Regions from separate parts of the Homo sapiens genome. Here region 2 is linked to region 1. The links come from fine-mapping of genetic effects on gene expression. A gene starts in region 1. The other region holds a variant in brackets. All regions are shown on one strand. Distances are between the middles of the regions. Region 1 holds the start of LINC00237 (long intergenic non-protein coding RNA 237). Region 2 overlaps RALGAPA2 (Ral GTPase activating protein catalytic subunit alpha 2).

Evidence for each region. PIP is the estimated chance that this variant, and not a neighbour inherited with it, causes the effect.
Region 2: its variant is fine-mapped to the expression of LINC00237 in spinal cord (GTEx, PIP above 0.99).

Annotation. Positions count from the first base shown.
Region 1 is chr20:21,104,983-21,107,890 of GRCh38, reverse strand. LINC00237 (long intergenic non-protein coding RNA 237) reads left to right here and starts at 1,533. Exons shown (of 2, transcript NR_190203.1): 1 at 1,533-1,620.
Region 2 is chr20:20,435,419-20,438,326 of GRCh38, reverse strand. The region is part of intron 37 of RALGAPA2 (Ral GTPase activating protein catalytic subunit alpha 2); the gene reads left to right. Among named protein-coding and RNA genes, the nearest start is that of INSM1, 69 kb to the right of the region's middle. The variant G/A (reference allele first, on the strand shown) is at 1,383.

The sequences.
Region 1 (2,908 bases):
GGCTTATGAAAAAATATCACATCCATATTATGGCATTTCCCCCTCTGCACTAGCTTCTTTAGGATGTATGAATTTCACCTAGCAGTATGTGTGTGTGTTGAGTTTTGATACCCATCTCTTTGTGTGTTAGTGGACAGAGTAGAAAAATGCAGACAACAGATTAACAGAAGAGAAAATAACTCATGAGCGGTCTTGGACACATTTAATATTATCAATGATATTCTGCGATAAAACATAAGCGGGGGTAGTATTTATGTACTTATTGGCTTACTAAATTGATCACATTTTCTGGTGGAAAAGTTAAATGCAATTTAGCTGCAGAGGATTTGGAACATGCCCCAGTTTGGTATTTGTTTATACTTTATATTTTAAAAAGGGAAAACAACTTGATTTAATCTCTGATTTGTGTAGAAAACTTGGCTTGCCAACTTATTGAAATTCACAGCTCTTGCCCAGAGGAACTGGTCTTCCGCTAAAAACTAGCCTTGGTTTATGCTAAGGTGGCAAAAGACTTAATTTGGGAATTACATTTCTTCCAAAGACTAATTTCAAACTAGGTATATATATTTTTAAGTTGGTTTGCAGATTCACATCTACACCACCTCTTCCAGAGTTGGGGGATGTTTTCCCTCTTGTTTATCGTTTTGCTGGTGTGAATGCTGAGAATTAATTACTCTCCTTTGTAACACTAAGACAACTTTTAATGATCATTTGTTTCTTCTATTGTATGGAATGAAATCATAAGAAGTTTCATTTAATTGGTTTATTCATTTAAAGAGATTCCTTTAATTGAAATAGAGAAAAGGAAAAATAAAACCCTAGAAAATAAAACCAGGTTCTAACCACTCCAGGGCGAAACGCGTAAATCATTTTAAAAATGAATACCCCAAATTAAGAATTTAATTTTTAAAACTCTTTATGTCTCTCTCTCCACATTTGTAGTATGTGAAAGGCAAGAGAGACCCTTTGAATCAGGGAAAAGTTATTCTTTGAAATGACATCGGTGATCTGATTCCCTCTGTATTTCAACCGCATTAACTTCACACCGTCCACACTGGGCAATGAAGATGCTCAGAGTCAGGTCAAATTCACCCTCCTGAAAAACTGCAAATTAAGATGCTGTTGATTACACATCACCGGCTGTCTTAATCATCGTGATCAAAATCCAAATATTAAGGAAAGTGGCCTGGGAGGGTTACGTTTGGGCTTTTGACAGACCCTCAACCAAACTCTGACGCCCAGCCTGCGCGTTTCCACATCTTTTTCCAGGCAAGAGGCTCCACCAGCCCGCGTGGGGCTCGCAGTGTTTCTCTAGAGTGGCTAGACATCCCCCAGCCCCCAAACCCAGACACACCCCGACCCCCGCGAATGGTTCTGGGCTGTCAAAACACGCGGCGGCGTGTTCAGTCCCAATAACTCGCGTGATGATTAATGAGCAGCTTGATAATTTAATATCGCGTGTGATTAAATTATAAGGCGTGGGGGAGGGGAGCTCTGCGCCACCTCGGCAGCCCCGCCGACGCCGACCAGCTAACCGGACTGGGCTGCGCGCGGAGCCCCCTCTTCCCGTGCACAGTGCGGGGCGAGGCTTGGCGAGCGGTGGGTCTGCGCCTTCCCAAGGTCAGTGGGTCTGGAGAGGGGAGGACGGCGGGACTGGGGGTGGCGGAAGGGATGTCTTGCAGAGAGGAGGAGAGGTGTGGGCTCAGGGTAGCTCTGGTCTGAGCCGATGAGCAGGGCGAGTCATCGACTCTTTCCCCGGCAAAGGCGCGTGGAAGGCTGGAAAATGGCCTCAGGCAAGGGAAGATTTGTTTTTAAAAATTCCTCTTTTCTCTGCCACGGGGGCTTAGAGAGTCCCTAGGATTCGGAGACCCCTGGGGGGAAGGGGCGCCCCTCTGAGTCTCTCTCTGGATCCCATCCCCCCGACCCCGCCCCGCGCCTTGACTTTGTGGGGTTTCCCCGCAGGCCGGGCCGAGGTGGCGGTCGGGTTGGGCCACCCCAAGCCCCTTCTTTTCCCCAGCCCGCAGAGCCCGGCCTTGCCTAGTGCTCGGCGGGGTTCAGGCAGGTCCGGGGGAAGAGGGAGTGGATGAAGCCTGCGAGAGCCGGAAGCTGCGGGGAGGCAGAGAGACGCCCGCAAAACTCTAGGCGCAGAGTCTCCGGGGTTTCCAGCCGGATTCCTAGGGGAGGCGCGAAAACCCGATCTAAACTGAGGTTACTGGAGGGACTCCTGGCCGGCACTCTTTTCTCCTGAAGAGGTCGTTTAGGGGGGCTCAGGCGTGGCCACTCCTTCCCCTGGAAGAAGTGTGAGCGCAGGGCCCTCGCCGGGTGAGGGGGCCGGCGGCGCTCACACTGTCCCTGCCGCCGCGGCACAGTCCTGCCCCGGCCCAGGTAGGCGGTTGCTTTTGCTGCTATGCAGAGCCAGGTCTGCTCCGGGGGCTGCAGCCTCAGAGGGGTACCTCGAGAAACCACTTGCGGGACACAGGGAGAGTCGCCTCTTATTCCATGGCTCTGTCGAAGGGCTGAACTTTTAGCCCGAGGAGGGCAGGCCCTCGACAGGTAGGGATGTCCCCAGAAGACCCTAGGAAACAACACCTTGGGGTGGGGGGCGGGGGACGGGGGGGTTGTTCAGACCCAGAGCGGGAGGGTGAAAATTAAAGCGTCCTGACCAGGGCTCCAGAGGGCTCGGCGTCCAGGCTGTGCTGGCTGGATTTTCAGCTGGGAAATGGCATTCGAAAGGGGACCCGGTGGGCTGAACCCAGGCTGCCCGCTTTCCTTCACCCAGAGAGGCCCTGCAGAGCGCCAGAACGGCGCGCCTGGTGTCCGGTGCTTCGGGCTCCAGGTGCAGTGGCCGAACCTTCCTCCTAGACAAAGATGGAAGCTTCCTAGGTTGGGCTCCTTGGATATGCAGCCA
Region 2 (2,908 bases), 670 kb after region 1:
TATTCATGCATTAAATACCAAGCTCTAGTAGTAGGTCCAATAATCATTATAATTTTGAAGCAGTAATGAGCAGAATCAATATTTTGAGACACTGGTAACAATATAATGCGTCATGAAAATATCTGATTTCTACTGGTGACACAGTCACAGGTAGTATCACTGTGGTATGTTCCTATTTATAACGGAAAGAAATGTTTCATTTCAGCTAGAGGATAGGATAGTGAGAATGAAGATGTGCTTTTTTACCATCCAAGTTCAGGGACCCCTGGAATTTTGATCATCACCCAGAAGATCCCCATGGGGTCCATTGACCCATATTAAGAACCACTCTTTGCGGGATTCATAAGAACCACGGAGTCAGGATCCACTGGAACCACTGCAGTGTTGTTCCTTCAGCCAGCTAGCCTGCGAGAGTGGTTTCTGAGACTCTGTAGGTATGGGGCCTGTTCTCTGGGTGCTAGATATACCACAGTTCCTGCCCGCATGGAACTTCCATTCCAGTGGAAGAGGCTGACAGCAAGCAAGCTAGATCATGAAAATCCAGGGAAGTTAGAGCATGGTGAGTACTGAGGAGAAAAATGAAGCCAAGAAAAGGAGAATGAAGGGTCTGGATCACAGTGCCTCCTGAGAAAAGCTGGCATTTGAGCAAAGACCTGAAGGAGGTGAGGGAGGCAGCCAGACAGGGGTCTTGGAAGAGCATCCCAGGCAGAGGGCACAGCACACACACATCGTGTGTGTGAAGTGTGGGAAGGGCTCCACACCACAGAGGTGACAGCAGGGGCAGGCACCCAGTGGGGCAGGGCCTTGCCAGCCACAGTAAGGACTTCCGCTTTTCCTGTGAGGTGGGAGCCATCTGAAGGCTGAACGGAGGACGGCACCATCCCTGAAAGCCTCCTGCTGCTGGGTACAGAGGCCAGAAGAGGTAGGAGGCCACAGCCATAATCCAGGAACGAAATGACAATGGCGTGGCCTGGATGGTGGCGTGTGGTGGTGACAAGTGGTCAGGTTCTGGATTGATGGGGATTTGTGGCCAGATGAGACGTGGCATGTCAGAGGGTGCAGAGTCATGTGTGCCTCAGTGACCAGGCGGTCTTCAGGACGTTCAGAGTGGTTTGTGGTTGCCAGTCTCCTTAATTTCCCCATTTACAGGAGGTGAACTTCTGTTTGAATTAATAATGCCAACATTTATTGAGCTAACATTTATGAAATTATACATATTATGTATTCCCATGTGAACAGATGGTTTGTGTTCAGATGCCATTGTGCAGAGGAGGCCACAGGACCCAGGGAGGATGGGGACCTTGCCAAGGTCCCACCGGCAGCATTCAGAGCTCGGAGCCTCCCGTCAGTTAGTTAGCCCCGGAGCTTGGTCTCCCCGGTGC[G/A]GCTGCCATGATGGCCAATGCACAGGCTCGGATGAGGTGGCGCCCTGGCCGCCCGCCCGTGGCAGGGATTAGATCAGGCATGGCACATGAGTGTGTCTGGCAGGACGTAGTGGGCAGTCAAAATGGCAGTTTCCTGCCTCCCTCCCTTCCAGGAGCCTGGGGCTTGACGCATTGCCTCTCCCAGAACGCTACTCACCCGACTAGGCCAGGGTTTTATTCTTTTTTCTATTTAGATTACTCTTCGGCCTCCAACCTTATGGCAGCAGAGACGACAGTGTCAACACATTGAAGCCTTCGTGAGCCATCCAGTGTTTGTCTCCCCAGGGGAAGTGAGATGGCTTCCCTGGGCTGGTGTTCTATGCCTTTGTGTCCTGGCCAGGGCCCAGGACCGGCTGATGGCAGGGACACTTTGCCGTCTTACTCATGTATTGCCGTGACGCTTAAATACACTTTATCAACCACTACCAGTTTTTTCTTCATATTAGGGATGGCATTGGAAGAAGGAATAGATAAGTAACGTGTTTGAGCAAAGAAAGATCTACCCTATTAAATTGTTTTATCTGGTAGGGATGGTATTTAAATAGACTGAAATCTTTTTAGAAAACTCATGCAAAGCACATGTGTAGAGAACTTGATCTGATTTACTTGGAACATGGAAGTACTAAGGATTTCAGTAGCTCTGGTTTCTTCGTGGGGTTTTATTTGAAGGGTCCTGGAAGCACTGTATGCTGGAGGCTGCTGTATTTCCTGAGGAGCAAAGTGGCCTGAGAGAGAGGGAGCAATGTCCACAGGCAGGTCTGTGATTTAGGCAGACAGACGGGGAAATGTCTGGGGCCCAGCGGGCTTTTCCAAGTAATCTGTTACTGTCTGGTATTAGGGTTAGACCATATGAAATGCTGCTTTTGCAGGTTAAAAATCAGCAATTTTGTATGATTCAACTTGATACATAACTCACCCCATTTCAAGACTTGAGCAGCTACAGTATTTATGGGATTGTTCATTTAAACAGAACTTAGAACAATAAATTTCTAAGAATTTTTACTAATCCTGCTCACAGACTAATCTTGATTCTTGTCCATGTGAGCTCAATCCAGAGCAGTCCCTGAAAGGCCATAGATCTAGTGCAGTTCCTGCCTGTGGCAGTGTCCACAGACACATCCCAGTGTCGGGGTCCCTCGTTCCCTTCGTGAAGAGAACAGAGCCACCTCTTTTCACCACACTGGGACTCCGGGGCAGCATCAGCCTGCCTCCTTCTTTGCTAAAAATCACACTGTGCCACATCTTTATCCTGCCCCCAAGTGGAGAGACGCACATGCTCCTCCCACTTTGCTATGGCACAGCATTGTCAGCTCTGCAGCAGCCAACATTCTAGTAAGGGTGTGACCCCTGTTCCCTACTCTTCTCCTTCAGATATAATATGATTCCGTACACTTTATTCAAGAGTTCATTCTTTACTGTCCTTCCTTTTTTGCTCTGTATTAGCTGCATTTATGTAAATTTTTCTCCCCCAAATGACAGTGCCCTTA